Regions from separate parts of the Homo sapiens genome. Here regions 1, 2 and 3 are each reported to be linked to region 4. The links are microRNA targets in miRTarBase. Many come from high-throughput screens and were not tested one by one. Region 4 holds a microRNA gene; each other region holds the end of a gene's coding sequence.

Region 1 (5,131 bases), not on the chromosome of region 4:
TGGAGAAGAGAGAGCAGGCGGCATCCGAGGACGCGGACAAGGGTCCCAAAGAGCCGCTGGAAAACGGCAAGGCCAAACTGAGCTTCCAGTGCTGTGAGTGTGGGAAGGCCTTCCAGCGGCACGACCACCTGGCTCGGCACCGCAGCCACTTTCACCTGAAGGACAAAGCCCGGCCCTTCCAGTGCCGGTACTGCGTCAAGAGCTTCACGCAGAACTATGACCTCCTCCGCCACGAGCGCCTGCACATGAAGCGCCGTTCCAAGCAGGCTCTGAACTCCTACTGAGCCTCTCCGCCTGGGGCGGCCTCACCCTGGCTGGTGCTGCCCCCTCACCTTGGTACTGATCAGCGCCCCCACCCAGGACATACCTTCCCCAGGATAGAGAGCACACCTCCCTCCTGTCCTTGCTCTCAGGTAGTGAGCGTTCGGGTGGTGCCATGGGAGCACTCTCCCTCCCCCAGGTAATGAAAGAGTGGCCAAGTGAGTGTTCTGTTTCTGCTGTGCCAAAAAACGGGGGGGATGTGCCATCACCAGGTTGGACATGCCAGGTGTTCTGCGTCTTAGAGACCCTTGGCCCATGCTCCCCAAGCTCGGGGAGTAAAACTGGGCTATCCCCCGTCAGGGCGGCACCCTGGTCACCAGCCAAACCTCAGTATACTCCCTCCCCTCCTTCCCTGTCTGAACGCTAGGATCTGCTCCTGAAGCTCCAGGATGCCTGCACTTCCACTGAGAAGCTGCTGGCGGATGTTGGACTAGAGGAAAGAAGAAGGCAGGGTGGGACTGATGGGCTCAGTGGGGAGCAGGGCCAGGCACACTGAGCCAGACATGTCATGTCTGAGCCCCAGATTCGTGGCCATCAGGTAGGCAGGAGCACCCCGCAGATCCAAGATGATCAGGCAGCCCTTTTGGGCTGGCCTCTGTGGCAGGGGTCTGCAGAGCTCCTTCTTGAGGTTTGGAAACAGTCGTCATACCTGTTGATTTTCCTGGGGGCCAATCACTAGGGATCTGGAGCTCACCAAAAACAAAGCTTACATTTTAATTTGTGTTGCACACCTACCCCATAATGTCTTTATACCCCAAAGATCCTTGGTAAATGCTTGTGGGTTGGAAGCGGAGTTGTCATCGTTTAAAAGGCACTTAAGTCCCTTCTTCCAATCTGTCCTGTCTAGGAATGTGGAGCTCTGCCCCCAGTGAGGGGTTCTCCTGTCTGGGTGAGCCAAGCTCCAGAACAGAACCTTGCCTGACAACACACTTGATAGATACATTAGCTTGGAGTGCTGGTGTGTCCAAACACTGGCTGGCTTAGAACAACAGGAGTGTATTCCCTGACAGTTCTGGGAGGTGCACGTCCAAGATCAGGGTGTCCTCAGAGTTGGTGCCTTCCGAGAGCTGTGAGGGAGAAGCGGCTTCATGCCTTTGCTGGCAGTTGCCATTCCTTGGTGTGTGGAAGCGTCACCCAGTCTCTGCCTTCATCTCCACATGGCACTCTTGCTGTGTGCGTGTCTGTCTCCAAACCTCCCTTTGTTTAAGGACACCAGTCATATCGGATTAGAGCCCATCCCACCGACTCCAGTATAACCTCATCTGTATCCGCAGCAACCGTTTACCAATAAGGTCACATTCTGAGGTACTAGAGGTTGGGACTTCAACATCGGAATTTGAAAGGGACAGCATTCAGCCCATGACTCCAGATAAACGTGAGGTATGCTATATCATTCCTAATTTACAGATGAGTCAATACAAACTTGAGTGAGCTTGCTCACAATTCCATCAAAGGCAGGGTTCAGACCCAAGTTTCAGCATTTAGGGCAGGTGTCCTCTGCATGGAAGAATCATACTCAATAGCCGTAAACGCTGACAAATTCCCCTTCCTCCCTGCCTTCTGATGGGGGCTGGGCAGGCCAGCTGGAGCTGTGTCTCCTGCTGGGATTCCGGACTGAGAGTGACAGCAGGTAGTGAAACCTCAAGCAATTTAAAACATGGTATTGTTCCTGGAAGACTGGTTATGTTGGCTAGGGTCAGCAAGAGAGGGCATCAAGGCTGTAGTCTAGCAGTGATTTAATCTGCAAGTCAAACCAGACGGGTATTTTGTATTATTCATATGTCACATCCTACCAACAGACAGTAAGTCAGGCAAGGCTCCTGGTGCTCCTTGTCACTCACGTAATTTTCACATCAGGAAAACTCTGGGCTGGGTGCAGTGGCTCACACCTGTAATCCTAGCACTTTGGGAAACCAAGGTGGGTGGATTGCCTAGCTCAGTGACACCAGCCTGGGCCACATGGCAAAACCCCGTCTGTACCAAAAATGCAAAAAATTAGCTGGGTGTGGTGTTGACGTTTGCGGTCCCAGCTACTCTGGAGGCTGAGGTGGGAGGATTGCTTGAGTCTGGGAGGCAGAAGTTGCAGTAAGCCGAGATCATGCCACTGCACAAGCTAGGTGACAGAATGAGACTCTGTCTCAAAAATAATTAAAAAGCCTCTGCCCCAAACTCGTTAAAAGATTTTATAACCACAACTGCTGTTTCTGTGTAGATGCATCTGCATGCCCAGGAGCAGTAAATGCAATAAAATCATTTGGTTATACTTTGAACACAAAATAAACGGTTGAGGCTTTTACTTTCTAAATAGTTTGTCTCTTGTATCAACATAGCTGGAAAAGGGAGAAATCCGATTTTTAAGGCCAAGGGAGGGGAAAATTCCAAGTAGAAGCCAGGCTCTCTGTACACGTTTACCCCACCTACCTGTGTGCTCCTACCTGTGCTGAGGATTCTCTCTGTAGCTCTAAGGTCTTGGGAAGGTTATTCACCTTCCTGCTTCAGACGTCTGACTCAAGAGAAGAACACTGTTCTACTTACCAGAGTGTTTTTCTGTGTAAAACCACATCATGAAGGAGAAAGCGACAAAGGGAATGTGAGGGGCTGGAAGCCACAGGGAGGCTGTCTCTTGAGTCCCCACCACTGATCCAGAGCCAACCAAGGCACCTCAGGAAATGGAAGGCCACATTGCCTCTGGATTTGGAAATCCTCCTGGGTAATGTAACTGAAACCCAGGTTGATGCCATGCAGCAGGAGCAGCAGGGGGAACGTGCTCTCAGGAGAGGTCGGCCAACCCTCCAGCCCAACACCCTTCACCACAGTGGTGGAGGAGGCTGCACCCAGGAGATCTTTGTCTCCCTTTTGGCCACTGATACCTTTGGCCTTATCTGACAACAGCTACCCCTCGATCCTTCCCTCCCACCCCAGGGGCTGGGCAGCTGGCTGGAGCTTTGTGTCCACCTTGCTCTGGAGGTTGAGACCCCCATCTGAGCAACATCCTCTCTCTTTGTTCCTCTGATCCCTTGGCATCGTCACAAACCCACAGGTGCATAATAAAAACTTGCTGAGTCAATATTCCTGTTAGGCTTTTCATTTTCATTTAAAAAGTAAAATGTGGCTGGGCGTGGCAGCTCATTCCTGTAATCCCAGCACTTTGGGAGGCCGAGGCAGAAGGATTGCTTGAGGTCAGGAGTTTGAGACCAGCCTGAGCAATATAGTGAGACCCCATCTCTAAGAAAAAAATAGAACAATTAGCCTGCCATGGTGGCACATGCCTGTAGCTATTTTGGGGGCTGAGGTGGGGGAAGATCCCTTGAACCCAGGAGACAGAGGTTGCTGTGAACGGTGGAGGTTGCTATGAACGGTGGAGCGCCACTGCACTCCAGCCTGGGTGACAGAGCAAGACTTCATCTCAAAAAACAAAAAGTAAAATGTGAAGCACAGCCAAAACATGTTTTCTAAGACCTGCAGGCTTTAGATAGTTCTGGTCACCTGATCTGGCCCCTCCCCAAAAGAAAGAAGAAGAAATAACTGTTTCATACGCTGGGAGTAGATTGTACTCCTGGTCACACCACAGCTTTAAGCCAACCTTAGTCGTTTTTCTCTTTTCTCTATCTCCCCAACTCTTGCCTCAGCTAGAAGAAGAAACAAATAAAAAAAGATGAGGCCATTGGTGGGAGGGTCCCTATCAGTCCTAAATCATACTGTGGCACAAAGGAAAGAGAAGGCCAGCTTTGAAGCCTGTGGAGATCTTGTCCAAGTCACTCTTCTCCTGTGAGATGGTTTCCCTTCCTCTGCCAAAAGCAGAGTTTGGATCAGATAGAAGTAATTCTGCTTGCAGAGTTACGTAGACGATTCAGCGATGATTATAGCACTTCAGCAATTCCATCAAATAAGCCCACTTTTTTTTCACCCCCCTAAAGACGGGCTCTCACTATTTTGCCCATGCTGGTCTCAGACTCCTGAGCTTCTCCCACCATGGCCTCCCAAAGTGCTGGGATTATAAGTCTGAGCCACCACACCCAGCCTCCAGACACACTTAGTATTAGCAACAAACACTGATACTGTTTGGTCTTGAAAGTGACGGTCAGTGCCCACTACTAGTCCATGCAACAAGGCTAGAGGTTAGAAAACTTGCTTAGGGCAGACTGGCCACAGGAAAGGGACTGTTGAAGGGACCACTGGAAGACCAGGTACCTCTAGCAGCCCAGACCCATGTATAGGGCAGCTGATAGAGTGCCAGTGGCCCAGCATCTGGGGGGTGGTTAGTAGTGATCATGAGCTCAACAGGGGCAAAGCCCAGGGGGTCCATCTGTACCTGTTTTGCCCATCAGATACCAATTGGGAACTTTATCTTCTCTTGAAACCATAGCCTGTAACCAGGTCACCATGATTAATGTGCATATAATTAGCAAAGTACAGAGAAGCCATAGAAATTCCCTGTGAGAAGATGCAAAACTCAGTGTGGGAAAGCAGAGTCCTCAGGAATACACGGAAGTGGGAGGAACCCGGGGCTTACCTCACACATCTTGGCCATAGCCGGGAATATCACAGGCAGGCCGACAACTGTGTGACAAAGGGCTGTCTTCTAATCACACAACCAAATGGCAGGAGAACCACCCTTTCTCCATCACCTGCTTTAAAAAAAAAAATACTATGGTTGTGTCTGTCCTGCCCCATTATATTAGTCTTGCTACACCTTGTCAAAATACGAAGAGGTTGGATACTTGCTATTTTCTACCTTTTTACGTGATGATCAGTCAGGCATAGCCACAAGAGAAGACAGAGGAGAGTCTCAGGAAAAGACGAAGTTTAT
Region 2 (5,131 bases), not on the chromosome of region 4:
CCTGAGGTGCCTGTGGCCACCCGGCTGGAGGTGGGTGGGCCGCGCTTGTCAGCTTGCTTGGCGGAACGTTCCTTTAGTTGGGAGGGAGTGCCTTTCCTGAAGCAATCCTTGGGCTGGACATGCTGATCCTGAATGAGTCCTAAGAGTACGCGTTTCCCAATACCCGGAGAAAACAGCAAGCCTGTGTTCCCAGCCAGCGCTGGTGGCAGCTGGGTTCCAGGCAGGTGGAGCCGACGTGGTCTGGAGCTGGCAGCCACACTCTGGCACCTCCTCAGGCGGTTTTCAAGGGTGGGTTCCAGCCAGGGAGCCCTATGCAGGCGTGGCATGGTGCCACGGGAGGACGGTCTCGGGGTGGGTGGATAAGGACCCTCCTTGCCTGCTCCTGACAGGCCGTGTGCTGCAGGCCACTTTCAATAACCCACGTTCTCAAAACCATCAGGTCCCCACTTCGCTGGCACACAGTGTCAATTGGGGTGTCCTGCAGGGTGGGTGAGGGGTGCTGGGGACTCCCCTGGCCTTGTCACCCAGACCCCCACCCAACCTTAGGGTCCCTGCACTCAGCGGCTGTTCTGGGGTGTAGGGACCAGCCCCACAGGGTCGGTGGGTCTCTCCCCATGTGCAGAGATGAGAGAGTGTAGAAATAGAGACACAAGACAGAGATGAAAGACAGCTGGGCCTGGGGGACCACTACCACCAAGTTGTGGAGACCGGTAGCGGCCCCGAATGCCAGGCTGCACTGATATTATTGGATACAAGACAAAGGGGCAGTGTAAGGAATGTGAGCCGTCTCCAATGATAGGTAAGGTCACGTGGGTCACGTGTCCACTGGACAGGGGGCCCTTCCCTGCCTGGCAGCCAAGGCAGAGAGAGAGAGAGGAGAAGGAGAGAAACAGCTTACATTATTATTTCTGCTTATCAGAGACTTTTAGTACTTTCACTAATTTGCTACTGCTAACTAAACGGCAGAGCCAGGTGTACAGGATGGAACGTGAAGGCGGACTAGGAGCGTGACCACTGAAGCACAGCATCACAGGGAGACGGTTAGGCCTCCGGATAACTGCGGGCGAGCCTGACTGATGTCAGGCCCTCCACAGGAGGTGGAGGAGTAGAGTCTTCTCTAAACTCCCCTGGGGAAAGGGAGACTCTTTCCCGGTCCGCTAAGTAGCGGGTGTTTTTCCTTGACACTAACGCTACCGCTAGACCACGGTCCGCTTGTCAACAGGCGTCTTCCCAGATGCTGGCGTTACCGCTAGACCAAGGAGCCCTCTGGTGGCCCTGTCTGGGCATAACAGAAGGCTCGCACTCTTGTCTTCTGGTCACACCTCACTCACTATGTCCCCTCAGCTCCTATCTCTGTATGGCCTAGCTTTTCCTAGGTTATGATTATAGAGCGAGGATTATTATAATATTGGAATAAAGAGTAATTGCTATAAACTAATGATTCATGATTCATATATAATCATATCTAAGATCTATGTCTGGTATAACTATTCTTATATTTTATTATACTGGAACAGCTCGTGTCCTCAGTCTCTTGCCTTGGCACCCGGGTGGCTTGCCGCCCACATGGGGCCAGGCATGCTGGACCCCCCTCAGTGCACATGCCAGAGCCCAATTCTCTCCTGAGTCTGGGGAAATTGATGCTGCTGAGGACACCACTGTTCTCAGAGTCGTCTCTGCTCGTGGACTCTTCTCAGCGCAGATGTAGCACCTGGATAGGAATTTTTTTTCTTTTCTGTTTTAGAGATGGGGGTCTTGCTCTGTTACAGCCCAGGCTGGAGTGCAGAGGCACAATCACAGCTCACAGGCCCAGACGGTGCAGCGGCCAGGCAGAGGTACTCCTCACTTCCCAGACGGTGGGGCGGCCTTGACCTCTCAGGTTTGAGTGAACCTCCCATTTCAGCGTCCCGAGTAGCTGGGACCACAGGCATGGTGCCACCACAGCTGGCCTGAATTTTCTTTAACAGTTTGGAGTTCCCATCAAACTAAACGCTAATCAAAGGATAGCATTATACGGTATGTGAAATTATAACATTAATTTTTTTCTTCAAAAAAAATCACATCAATAAATGTGTGATAGGTTGGCTGGGAGAAAATCTGGCTAGTCTGGGAAAATTCTTTGTAGGAAAGTTGACAACTAGGGTGCTGCGAGACCTGTGTGTACAAGTAGGTGACCCATCTGGGATCACTGGTTTTGTCAGCACCCCGATTTTGTGCAAATTCAGTTTTCCCTTTATATGGAGAGAACAGCACTGCCCCATGGAGAGCGGAAGGCCCAGGGAGGTCCATCCATGGCCTTCGCCTCTTAAACATTGACCCTGACATGCCCACATCACCTCCTCCTGAAGATTCCAGAAGTAAAGGATAAGTAAGAAAAGCAGGACGGCACTTTGGGAGGCAGAGGCGGGCGGCTCACCTGAGGTCAAGAGTTTGAGACCAGCCTGACCAACATGGAGAAACCCCGTGTCTACTAAAAAATACCAAATTAGCCAGGCATGGTAGTGCATGCCTGTAATCCCAGCTACTTGGGAGGCTGAGACAGGAGAATCGCTTGAACCTGGGAGGCAGAGGTTGTGGTGAGCCAAGATTGTGCCATTGCACTCCAGCCTGGGCAACGAAAGCAAAACTCCATCTCAAAAAAAAAAAAAGTAGGAGGGGTGAGCTGGTCTCTCCTGGAACCCCAGCACTGAGGGAAGCCAAGGCAGGCTAATCTTGAGCCCAAGACTTGGAGACCAGCGTGCCACTGCACTCCTGCCAAGGTGACAGCAAGACCCTGCCTCAGAAAAAAAAAAAAAATGCCAAGTACAGTGGCTCACGCCTGTAACCCCAGCACTTTGGGAGGCCAAAGCAGGCGGATCCCTTGAGTCCATAAGTTCGACACCAGCCTGCGCAACGTGGCGAAACCCCATCTATACAAAAAGCACAAAAAATTATTTGGGTGTGTTGGTGAGCACCTGTTGTCCCAAGTACTTGGGAGGCTGAGGTGGGAGGATTGCCTGAGCCCAACAACTTGCTGCAGTGTGCTTATGCCACTGCACCCCAGCCTGGGCAACAAAGAGGCCCTAAAAACCACCAGGGGTTTCCCTTCCAGCAGCTAAAACCTGAGAATCATGGATGCAGTGGAGAGCATGAGCGCTTTCCCAGCCCTGTGGGATCCCTTTGCTTAGCCATACACGGGCCGATCTGACACCCAAAACCAAAGGCATTGAGCGAGTGGGAGTGCCACCCGCTGCCGTCCCAGCCCTTTCCCAGGGAAAGGCCACCCCCTTCCAGCTGCTGCTTGTGATCTGGGGCTGAGTTCTGGCTGCTGCAAAAACAACATCCCAACGCGAGGGCTGGGGCCGCCAGGTCCATCACAAGGTGGGAAACATGCCCATAAGAGGAAAACAGCCCTGACTTTAAATATATATTCTCCAATTTAAAACTTTTAACTAAAAAGTAAACTTTAATGTCGAAAGTGCAAACTTGGGGAAGGCAGAAAACATCACACACAAGGCTGTCACTTCACACTTGGAAGGTTGCACAGCGGCCGGGCAGAGGCGCTCCTCACTTGCCAGACGGGGTGGCGGCCAGGCAGAGGTGCTCCTCACTTTCCACACGGTGTGGGGGCCGGGCAGAGGTGCTTCTCAGTTCCCAGATGGTGCTGGGCTGTCGGACTCCATTGCTGGATGTGTGACTTGGGTTTAAGCTTCTCCCTTCTGCTCTCATCTGGAAATGCTGACAGCCTGGGCATTTCCTCCTTTGGCACTGGAGACTGAAGCCTGGCAAGGCCCTGCCCTCAGCAGGAACTCCCCCTGGGCCCCACTCTGTGACCTTGAGCCCAAGACAGGATTTTTCCTTTACCTTCTTCCAGCCACTTTGGGCCTCCCGGCTCTCTCAGAGCCCTGTTAGGTAGGTGACAACTCTGTTCCCACTGTTTTTTTTTTCTTCGTGTATTTTTAGTAGAGATGCAGTTTCACCATGTTGGCCAGGCTGGTTCGAACTCCTGACCTCAGGTGATCCACTCGCCTCAGCTGCCCAAAGTGCTGGCATTACAGGTGTGAGCCACCGCGCCCGGCCCCCGGTTCCCACCTTCTTAAGTGTATGTGTTGTCATCATGTTTCACCCCAACCAAACCTTGGGTGGGCAGCCTCTGTAGGGGACCACTCACAGCTGGCCTGTAGTCACGGTCCCCTGCAGAGCCCTGTCCCGATGCGTCGTCCCTGCCCGTGGCCTGCTCTGCCTGATGTGCACTGTACGCTCGGCTCTGCTGACTCCCGGGGGCCTCCGTCACACACTGAGCCAGCCTCATCAGCTGTCTCGGTATTTGGTGTTCAGGGACAGGGATCCAGCCCTTCCTAAGGTCCACCTGGGCTGAGACTCAGAATGGACGTTCAAAACAAAGAGATGGAGCTGTGAGTGACACCGGGCCCCACGGGCCGTCTGTCAACCAGGCCTTGGCCCTAGTCCATCGGGCACTCACCCCCTGCAAGATGTGGACCCACTAGTGCCCAACGTGTGAACAAGTAGCTGGAGGCCTCACCCCACACTGCTGGCATGGCCTGCCTCTCTCCTACCCAGGTGTAGCAGCTCCTGGTGCCAGTTGCCCCAGAGCGTGGCCAGGCCCCGGGTGTCTCTCCATCACAGCTGCGGCTCTGGCTTCTTCCGGGAAGTGAGGTGGGGTCGCTCCCCGTGCAGCTGCTGCTGCCGCTGCTTCAACGCTCTGTAGGCCTGCACGGCCCGCTCTCTCTCCTCCTCCACAATCCGCTGGCGGGCCAGGGAGGCGGTCAGAGGCTGGGACACACCACCGGGGCTCAGAAGCATCCGCAGCATCTGCGATCTCCTGCCAGGCTGAGGGAGAGAGGGGAGGGTGAGGCACAGGCTGGGAAAGGAGGGGATGCAACAGAAAGCCTCACAGCTTCAACAGCTCTCCCGCCAGCGAGAACACTGCACTCTCAGGCCACACACCAGACAGCGCACACGTTGGCTGAGGGTTTTTTTTTTTCTTGACACAGGATCTCGCTATGTTGTCCAGGCTGGTATCAACTCCTGGGCTCAAGCAATCCGCCTGCCTTGGCCTCCCAATGTGCTGGGATTACAGGTGTGACCCACCGTGTCCAGCCTGTCCAAGGCTTCTGTTCCCTGGCAGCAC
Region 3 (5,131 bases), not on the chromosome of region 4:
GGCATGACAAAAACCCAGATATAGCCCTCAACAAGCTCAGAGTCAAGTAAGAGAGACATATATGTAAATATGTAACTATAATCAAGTATGCTATGTGCCGTAGCAGAATGCAGAGTACAGGGCTTAATAGCAGCAGTAGGAGTGAATGGGTAACAGTTGGAGGATATGAGCCAAAGTTTCACAGAGGCCATGATGCTCCAGATAGACTCAGTGGGTGAGCAGAAGTGGGAAAGACAGCTGGGGCAGGAAAGCATGTACATGGGAATGAAGTAGCACAGTAAGAATCCAGAAATGATTGGCAGATACTGATGGGATAAGTCCTCGCTGGTGAAATGAAATGACTAGTGTCATGAAAAGAATCCCCTTCTGTTGTTAATAAAACAATGAACTTGTTTTCTTTGTGCAGACAACAGGATTCCTTACTCCACCACATCTCCTGGAGTGGCATCTCACCCAGCCACGGTGCCATCTAACGGTAATGATACCCTCTCCCCATGTAAATGAGTCAACATTTCACCCCTCAAAAATGTCAGGGGCCTGACAAGTTTATCTTTTTCACAGAACGACCTGGCAAAGAGCAGCTCTATTTCTTTGGCAAGAATCTGGGTCCAACAGGAGCCAAGGCAGCCTTGGTCATCCTTTTCATCATTGGACTCCTCCTTCTAATCACCACGGTGATTCTCTCCCTCAGACTCTGCTCTGCAATGAAGCAGACAGATTACCAGCAAGTCCAGTCCTGTGCTCTCCCCACGGATGCTCTGTGAACCATCTGGTCTCCCTCAACAGGAAAGGGTGATGTCCCACAGCTGGCCAGATGGCAGCCAACAGGGAAACTGGACCAAGGCATCACTCACCAAGGAAGGTTGACACTGTATCCTGGATCAGCCTTCTGATCCTCTCAAACATCATCCAAAGCAATTTGCTTTTATTTATTTATTTTTAAATGGGCTGCGAATAATCCTCAGGTATAAAACACAGAAAAAGGAGAATGGGCATGGCTGAGAATGTCAACTCTTAGTCTATTCTTTGGTTGGATTCACTGAATAGGAGACACTCTGAAAGATATCTTTATATTCCATCTTTTATAATTCTTGAACAGTGCTTTCTTAGCTAACCACCAAAGTTTCTAGGTGAACAGCTTCTAGAAAAAGTTAGAGTGCCTCAGACATTTAACTGGAAGGGCACTACTTTTTCAACATTGTTGCATAACATGCATCCCTTGGTTCTGTGGAAAATATCTTTCTTAGGAGTTCTTGGCAATGTCTAAGTCAGTGTCTGCTGATAGAATTAGACCAAATAAATTTTTTGGAGGCTTTAACCAGCTCTCCTGGCCTTTTCCTCTTTGATATAAATAGCCTGTGCAGTGCTTGTTTTAAAAAGCAAAGTTATACGTTTTTTAAAAAATTGCTGCTGTTTTTATTCAAACCTGTAGAAATACTTGAATGTTTACAACTCACTTCATGTTACATGTTTTTACAATATGTTTCTGTGGCAATGTTTGTACTTTCAAAAATCAAGTAGAGAAATTGTATTTCTACTGCAGACTGTGGGAGGGCTGAAATCTGTAAAAGAACATGTTAGGCTCTCCCTTTATGAATCAGGGACTCCCTGAGAGTTTAGAGCAAGCTTTCTATCAGGGAGGGAAGCTTTGCAGGAGGCAAGTCTGGGCTTGAATTTGGAGTCTGATTTTTCATTCAGTTAGAGGGAATCTTTACAAGTCCTCATCTTCTATGAAATTATAACATTCTCATTGTATGAGAAACATCAGGAGGAATTTATCAATGTAGGTGACTAGATAGGAGAAGGGACCTCTAAATATCCTAGATTCTATGGCTTTTAAAGACATACCTCTTCATGGAAGGAGAAAAAAGGAAAAGGAAAGGTGAGAAAAAGATAATCTTGGTGGCAGATTCTCTTAAACCATTAAACCAGCTTTGAAAATTAATAAATAATTTCCAAGGTTCAAATGCAAAAAAATTATTGAACAACTAAACTCAACCCATTATGAGGCAATCTACACTGTCCATACCTATGCTTAGACAGTAGGTGTAAGATTGATAAAAGTAACATTGTTTATTACAAGACTGAGAAATTGCTTTTAGCTCTGGGCGAGATGCCCTGAGATTCCAATGCCAATGCTAGATGAGTGATACTGGTATGCCTGCCTTAGCAGTGGGTAATTTGAATGTCAAAGTGAGTGACAAGGACCTAAGAAATATTCTGGTGGAGGGACCTTTCACACTGTCTCATCTTCATCTTCATGAGGGGAAATGGGTAATTGGATAGAAGCTATAGTCTTAACATAAAAGGGGATGCAAATGCTAATAGTTCTGTTCATAGTTTGCTTGAATGTCATATCAAACAGCATACACAAAAGATTTTGAATTTCAATCTGCTAACCATTGACAATGTGATTTCATAGTACATGTTCTACAGTTTTCATACATGTGTAGGCTGCATAATTTCATAATTATGGTAAATGCCTTATTTATTACCCACCTTAGTAAGACAAGTTGTTCAGTTGTTTTTTTTTCTTTTCAGTTTATTTTTTTAATGAAAACAAAACCACAAAGTAGTTTGATTGCATCATTTATCATTTTAATAAAGTGTCACATAAGGTGGCTATTTGCATGGTTATTTTCACTTAAAATTATCTATCACTGAACTAGGGGAGGTGGTTAAAGTGGAATTAATTTTTAGATATTTAGGGGCTATGACTATGCCAATGACACTTGTTAGAGGAAATGAAACAAAATAGTGTATCTCCACAAATAATATGACTTCTCAAACATTGTTTCCTCAAACATAACTACACTCCTTGTTCTCAGCCTCACTCTTGAGAAAATCAACTCTGCCTTCACTTACACACATATTTCTTCCTATTACAATACACGTGTCCCTGCTCCTAGCAGGACAGTCTCTTCATTTGACTTTGGGTCTCATTGCTTCTTGCTTTCTCAAGACTTCATTCCCTTGGGTATCCATTTTTCCTCCTGCATCTTTCTATGAAACCATCAGCAATGTCCGCCATTAAAAACAGAAAGCAATGTGCTGTCTTATTTAACTCTATAACCCCCTCCGACACAGTTTCTCTCTTCCTTTGATAGCAGAACATAGAGGTATTCACACTTGGTGCCTGTACTACCTCACCCCATGCATTCCTCAGCCCATTCTGATGGCTTTCAATCCAGCGTGCCCAGCCCCCACACCCCAATCTGCTGTGGTAGAGATCACCAATCATGATGCCATTTCCAGTGGCTTCTTCTCCATCTTTATCTTACTCAACCTCTCAGCAACAAGAAACAGCTCCTTCCTTCTGAACACTCGGAGTCTCTAGTCCCTTGGCTCTGCAACATGACTCTCTGCCAGCCTTCCTTCTTCCTCAATGACTATTCCTTCTCAATCTCTTTTTCTAGTTCCTTCTCTTCTGTCTGACCTAAATGTTAGCATGCCTCAGAACTTGACACTGGGTCCTTTTTCGCTTTTTACCCTCTGTGGTAGGCTGAATATTGCCCCAAAGATGTCATGTCCTAATCCCTGAACCTGTGAATGTCACCCTATGTGGCAAAAGGGACTTTGCAGGTATGATTAAGGATCTTGAAGATAGGAAATTTATACTGGATTATCCATAATGGCCCTATATGTAATCATGAGTGTCCTTATGAAAGAGAGGCAGTGGGAGATTTGGCTACAGAAGAAGGCAATATGACAACCAAGACAAGATGCCATGCTGCTGGCTTTGGAGATGGAGGAAAGGGCCATGGGCCAGGGAATGCAAGGAATGCATCTCCAGAAGCTGGGAAAGGTAAGGGAAAGGATTTTCCTCTAGAGCCTCCAGAGAGAGGTTGGCCTTGCAGATATCTTGAAACTGATTTTGGACTTCAGAGGTCCAGAACTGTAAGAGAAGAAATGTGTGCCAACAAGTTTGTGGTAATGTGTTACCAGCCACTCCATAGTTTATTTTATCCATCCTTATGATCGGAAAACCATTTTTATGCAAACAAATTCAAAATGTATTTCTCTAACCCTGACCTTGGGCTGCAGATTCACACAAATCCTGCTTGAGTAGGGCCACTGCAGCAGTCCCCAAACCAGCCTCTCCATCATCACTACTGCTCCTTTCCACCACTGTCCACACATTGCCTCACGTTTTTCCAAATTTCATCACTTTCCTGGTTACTACCCTTTACTGTCTTCCCATTTCACTTTTAATAACATCCAAACTCTTTACCTTGGTCTTTAAGACCCAGCTTGACTTGGCCCATGCCCACTCCTCCAACTTCTTGAACTCTGCTCCAGCTTTCATCCGCTCCTATACTCTGCTAGTTCTTTCTTGCCTCAGGGCCTTTGCACATGCTGCTTTCTATGCCTGGAATGCTCTCCCTCCCTAGCTTCCTCATTCCCTCTCTGTATTAGTCGGGGTTCTCTTAGAGGGACAGAACATATATATATATATATATATATATATATATATATATATATATATATATATATGTAAGAGGATAATAATACCGGTCTTGTGCTTTAAGATGATTAATCTGCCAGTCATGTGTAGAATAGATCATTTTATATATATATATATAATATATAATGATATATAAACTCATTTTATATGTATATAATGATATAAAAACTCATTTTATATATATATATAAGTTCATTAAGTATTAACTTACATGATCACAGGGTCCCACAATAGGCTATCTGCAAGCTGAGGAGAAAGGAGAGCCAGTCCAAGTCCCAAATCTGGAGAACTTGGAATCTGATGTTCGAGGGCAGGGAGCATCCAGCATGGGAGAAAGATGTACGCTGAGAGGCTAAGCCCATCTCTCCCTCTCACATTTTTCTGCCTGCTTTATATTCACTGGCAGCTGATTAAATTGTGACCAATGGATTACGGGTGGATCTGCCTTCCCCAGCCCACTGACTCAAATGTTAATCTCTTTTGGCAACACCCACACAGACACACCCAGGATTAATACTTTGTAGCCCTCAATCCAATCAAGTTGACACTCAGTATTCAATATCATATTCTCCTAGCTTTTCTAGTTCACATGTGGGTTCCCCTGACTTCCCTCTCTAAAGTGGGTCCTTCCCTCTGTTATTTACTATCTTCACTGTTTTCCTTTGC
Region 4 (5,324 bases):
GCCTGCTGAAAAAAAAGTATTGACAAAGTTATATATTATTTTCATAGTTAATATCTACAGCCTTAAAAATATCTATGCACCCCAAAATTATCTCCCCAGGGAAACAACTTTTTGTTCTTTCAGGAATAAAATTACACTTAGATTTTCCAAAAATTCATGTAGAAAGATAAACTTTTAACATATGATGCCTGCTTGTTTGCTTTTTCTTTCTTTCTTTTTTTTTTAAACAATCTGGCAAAAACACAGAGAACAGACAAACCACAGAGTTTATCAAACAGATACACATGGCACTCTGGGTGGCCTGAAAGCCACCAAACTCCACCTCACTCTTGCAAACAGCACTTACTGGGAACCAGGGCTTCGATAAGGAGCCCATGGTCATGCTAATGTGGACAACACAGCCACCCTGAGCCAAGCACATATAAACAGTCCTATCGCCAGATTCCAGCTAAATTTCTCCTAAACAATTTAGGCAACTCCAGAATTTAAAAACAAAAAATTTCCATTAGGTACCTAAATTACTTGTAAAAGTTTTAGGAAATGTTTAGCTTGCTGCCAAATGATAAATGTCCAGGACTGTGGCATTTTATTTCCTAAGATTCCTTAAGTCATTTTGAGGCTTTGCTTTAATACTGTGGTCAAGGCTCTACAACCTTTGATCTTGTTCTGATGGCCTCAAGAGAATGGGTTGTCTTTGGATGTTCTGCCTAGAAAGGAACCTACCAACATACAAAGATTAGAGCCACCACGGACCTGAAAAGTCATTTTGATGTTAACTAGTGTTTCAAATAGGAAGGATAACATGAGCTATCAGTGAAATGCAGGTTGCACTACATAAACCATTGGCAATATTTTACAATCTGGATCCTGAACTTTCTCATGCACTCTGGATTTCAAACATTCTATTCTGAATGGGTGTTGGGAGCCATTCTTTCTTTTTTTATTTTTTAGCAATGGCACAGGTTCCCTGATGTTGCCCAGGTATAAGTATTAGTCCTTAAATCTTATCTCTCTATAATCTATCAACATATATAACATCAAATGTCCCAGAAATTCCAATATTATTACTCTCTAAAACTGCTTCTGCCACACAAATGCATAAAAATTATTTGTTACATAGACTAGGTTGTCCCGATTTTTGGTTCAGAAAAAAAAATTATTATTCCGATCAAAAAGAGATAGATTCCTACAACACATATCCGAAAATTCCGGATGAATTAAAGACCCGAAGGTAAAAAATGAAAATAAATGTGAATATTTATAAAAATCCCACTATTTATACCTCAACCTGGGGTTGAGGAAGAATTTTCTTCACACTGAACTACAGGCATAAAGCATGAACAAAATATTTTATTACATTAAAAAACTTTCTGATCAACAAAATATAAACAAAAGCATAAATAAATGAGAGAAATCCTGCAACAAATAGAAAAGACAAAGGGTTAAGCAACTAAAGAGTAATAGAGCTCTTAGAAATAAAAAAGACAAAGATAAACACCTCAGGGGGAAAATAAGCAAAGATATGAATATGTAATTTGTGGAAATATAATTAGTTGATAAGCATGAAAAAAACTTCAACTTTGCCAGTACTCACAGAAATGCAAATTAAAATAAAGAAAAGGTATGTATTTTCTTCCTATCAGATTGGTGTCAATTCAAAGCGATAATACTCAGTGAGGCTGAAGCTAGTGCCCTAATTGGTAATGGACAATTGGCGTATTAGCCTTTCTGGAGGCAATTTGACTACATTATTGAAATATTTCAAGATCTTTCCTTTGACTCAGCAAGTCTACTTCCAGGATTTGTCCAAAAGAAATAATGAGGATGGTTTCATAAAGATGCAAGAATAATATGTTAAATGCATTGCACATAATCTTTTTGTTAAAAGTGAACAACCAGAGGGCTGAGGGTCTCTGCCTCCATGCCCACGTCTCAAAATTGCTAACTCCTGTTGATTCCACTGTCTGAAGAGCTCTTCTGTGTCTACTTCTTCCTAGTTGCACTGCCATTTCCTAGTTCAGGCCACCATCACCTTTCACTTGGATTACTGCAACAGCTTCCTACATAGCATCCCATCCCTTTCCGGTTTACTCTCCACCTGGCAGGCAGGATGAGATTTTTAAACACAAATCAAATAACCTCCCACTCCTGATAAAGGTCTTCACTGGCCTCCCATAGCCTTATGTCCAACCTCCTTGACACTTATGGAGAGCTACGGTGATTCCAATGCCTGATTACCTTGCCAGTCTCCTCTCCAGACTGCCAACAGATACACTTCTGAAGCTCAAACGGGCCATGATGATCTCTGGGCATGCTGGTGTTCCCTCTCCTAGAACACAGTTCCTCACACTATTCTACCCTTTCCTAACCTATGTTCCTCACATTCTCCAGGGCTCAGCTTAGCAGGAACTTCCTTAGGGTCAATCTCTCCTGCTTCTCCAGCACTTGAGTGAAATGTAGCTCTTAGGCACCCACTGTCCACAGCATCCTGCACTTACCCAAAACCACAGCACTGGCCACATTATGTGGATTTAACTGTGGGTCATCAGTTTACAGGTGTCTCGGGTCACTTCTATCATTGCATGACCTTTTCAGAGAACACAAAAGCCTTTGCATGCCCAATATCTAGGGCTCCTTTCCTTATTCATACACCAAGACTTTTTTGTTCGTTTGTTTTTGAGACAGTCTCACTCTGTCGTTCAGGCTGGAGTGCAGTGGTGCAATCTGGGCTCACTGCAACCTCCGCCTCCTGGGTTCAAGCGATTCTCCTGCCTCCGCCTCCTGAGTAGCTGGGATTACAGGCACCCACCATCATGCCCGGCTAATTTCTGTATTTTTAGTAGAGACAGGTTTCACCATGTTGGCCAAGCTGGTCTCGAACTCCTGACCTCAGGTGATCTGCCCCCCTCAGCCTCCAAGAGAGCTGGGATTACAGACATGAGCCACCACACCTAAATATTCCTCAAGAAACTGGCTAAATAAATTACACATCTATACAATGGATGTGTACTTTACACATCCATCTACACAATGGATGTATACTACACAACCATAAGAAAAAAAATAAAACATTTACTTGGAAAACATCAGGAAATAGTGTAAGGTTAAAAAAAAAAGAAATAAAAATGCTGAACAATATTCTAGTATGCTGCTACAGTGTATGAAAAAGCAGGCATATGAATATATGTGCTGATTCATGAGTCAAATATCTCTCTGGAAGGACACTGGGAAGGGAAACTGAGTGGGTGAAGTCAAAATGGGGAGAAAGGACTTTCCCTGTATAATCTTTTACTGTTTGGCTTTGTTAGTATATTTCATATTTCAATGATAGCTTACTTTGGATTTTTGTTTAACTAAGTAGTCGTAAGCGTTTTAGACAAAACTCTTTAGAGGAGAAACACAAAGGCTAATCTTCCACCACTCCCAAAATGAAACAAAACAAACACCTTACAATTTCCAGTGCTCTTGAACAAGGCTGTGGAGAGGTGGCAGCGGTGTCTTCCCTGCCCGGTGATGGAGCACGTCACAGGGGAGCACTGCTGCCTTCTCTCTCGGGTCTGCTTTGCTCCTCTTTTGCAGTCCTTCACTCAAATTTCCTGAGCAGCAACCACTGTAAAATACTCCGGCTGTCCAATAATACTTAGGTACGTTTCATTTTCTTAGAGGCAATGTGAAACTATGACAGTTTCTTCTCACAAAGTGGTGCTGGAATCAACCTTAAAGGAAAAGCAAAACTACGAATTTCTACAGCCAAGAGTACTAACTACAAATTCTGCTTTTGTGTCCCATAATATTAGAAAATAAATGAATGGATGAACTAAAGAAAAGAAGAAGAAGGAAAAAAGAAAGAAAATCTTCTCCAACAGACTTCTCCTTTTCCTTTGACTTGGAACAGCCATCATGGCAAGACAGAGTGAGGCTGTTTCTTCTTAATCAGTACTGGGCTACAGAGTCCATCTACAACTAATAAGTTGTAATTCATGCCTTAGATCTGTTTTCCCTGCAGCTAAAAGATACGTTCAAGGGAGTAATATGCTCTGGATCTCCTGTATTTTCTAGCACTGATCAGCTACCGTGCATTATCTACCAGCATATGGCTGTAGAGAGAAGGACCTCTCCAAAAAGAGAACTGCAATGGAGAGAGAGAAAATTCAGCAGAAATCCCAAACAAAATATGGTAATTATGAAACATCTTACTTCTTGTCTTATTACCAAGATGAAAATAAATACCTCCAAACAAAACTGCTAAATTTAACTACCAAGATTTTTAAAAGTACACCCTGAATTCAATATTATCTAAGACATGGAAGAGGACTAATGGTACTCCAAAATGCTTAAGTGAGAAGAAAAAAATTCAATCTAATTGTCTTAGGAAAACATCAGATGAAATAATATGCATGTTATTCCCAAACAAAGGATGTTACTAACCTGAAATAAAGATAGATATTGAAAAGTTAGTCCTTGAGACAATGCGTATGCTAACAGCTGATACTACCTAAACCACATAGCAGAATGGTTTTCAAATCCAGGCCTAAGAAATACATATAAATTCAGATTCAACTAAAAATTAAGAGCTATCCTAATTCTGGCAGCCATAACGAATTACCATAGACTGGTAGCTTAAAACAACATAAATTTGTTTCTCACAGTTCTGAAGGCTGGAAGTGTGAGATCAGGGTGCCAGTGTGGTCGGGTTCTGGTGAGGGCCCTCTCCAGGCTGCAGATGGCCACCTTTTCCTTATATCTTCACATGGCAGAAAGACAGTGAGCTAGCTCTCTGGCCTCTTCTTATAAGGGCACTAATCCCATTCATGAGGGCTCCTCCTTCATGACCTAATTATCTCAAATCATCACACTGGGGATTGTATCTCAATGTATGAATTTTGCAGGGATACAAACATGCAATCATAAGTTTATTCTATGTCAGAACTTAGTGTCTTACCTATACAAGATGCTTTCATATCCAACATCTCATCAAGTTCTTAAAATAACCTTGTCAGGGAGGTGTTATTCTCATTGCAAGGGAGAAAACTGAACCTTAAAAAAAGAGACTTGCCTGGGGTCATTCACGTAATAAATGGCAGCAACCGAACTGGAACCTGGACCCTCAGACTCTAAGACCAATGCATGTTCTCTATAAATAATATTTGTGAGGTTTTCTTTTCTATCCCTTAAAGGCAACAGTTGTTAGTTAAACTTCATTTAGACAGAACATTGACAATGCAACCAGGTTATTCTGTCTGCTGATAAAGAAAGTCTCTATTTAAATTGTTTTTATAGGAACAGAACATTTACGTGCTTTTTTTCTAAGGGAGAGGAGAGAA

The links. Region 4 holds the annotated microRNA hsa-miR-3714 (GAAGGCAGCAGUGCUCCCCUGU, at 3,526-3,547, opposite strand). A microRNA usually pairs through its seed, bases 2 to 8, with sites in the 3' UTR of a target mRNA and lowers its output. Matches are read on the target gene's strand: a 7mer-m8 pairs with bases 2 to 8, a 7mer-A1 pairs with bases 2 to 7 and ends in A, and an 8mer does both.
Region 1: miRTarBase lists ZNF496 as a target of hsa-miR-3714. Seed matches in the 3' UTR shown: 7mer-m8 at 1,463-1,469 and 7mer-m8 at 1,875-1,881.
Region 2: miRTarBase lists CCDC137 as a target of hsa-miR-3714. Seed matches in the 3' UTR shown: 7mer-m8 at 3,472-3,478.
Region 3: the mRNA of HEPHL1 is a reported target of hsa-miR-3714. Seed matches in the 3' UTR shown: 8mer at 2,162-2,169, 7mer-A1 at 2,481-2,487 and 7mer-m8 at 2,852-2,858.

What each region holds. Positions count from the first base shown.
Region 1 is chr1:247,295,672-247,300,802 of GRCh38, reverse strand. ZNF496 (zinc finger protein 496) reads left to right here. Exons shown (of 10, transcript NM_032752.3): 10 at 1-3,388. The coding sequence ends at 284. Among named protein-coding and RNA genes, the nearest start is that of ZNF496, 34 kb to the left of the region's middle. RefSeq lists enhancers at 82-980, 981-1,880.
Region 2 is chr17:81,672,194-81,677,324 of GRCh38, reverse strand. CCDC137 (coiled-coil domain containing 137) reads right to left here. Exons shown (of 6, transcript NM_199287.3): 6 at 3,426-4,830. The coding sequence ends at 4,621. Among named protein-coding and RNA genes, the nearest start is that of CCDC137, 8.0 kb to the right of the region's middle.
Region 3 is chr11:94,111,131-94,116,261 of GRCh38, forward strand. It overlaps HEPHL1 (hephaestin like 1), which reads left to right. Exons shown (of 20, transcript NM_001098672.2): 19 at 407-475; 20 at 562-3,078. The coding sequence ends at 764. Among named protein-coding and RNA genes, the nearest start is that of PANX1, 15 kb to the right of the region's middle.
Region 4 is chr3:16,931,419-16,936,742 of GRCh38, reverse strand. MIR3714 (microRNA 3714) reads right to left here and starts at 3,547; the gene lies at 3,483-3,547. All of the region lies in intron 1 of PLCL2 (phospholipase C like 2), which reads right to left.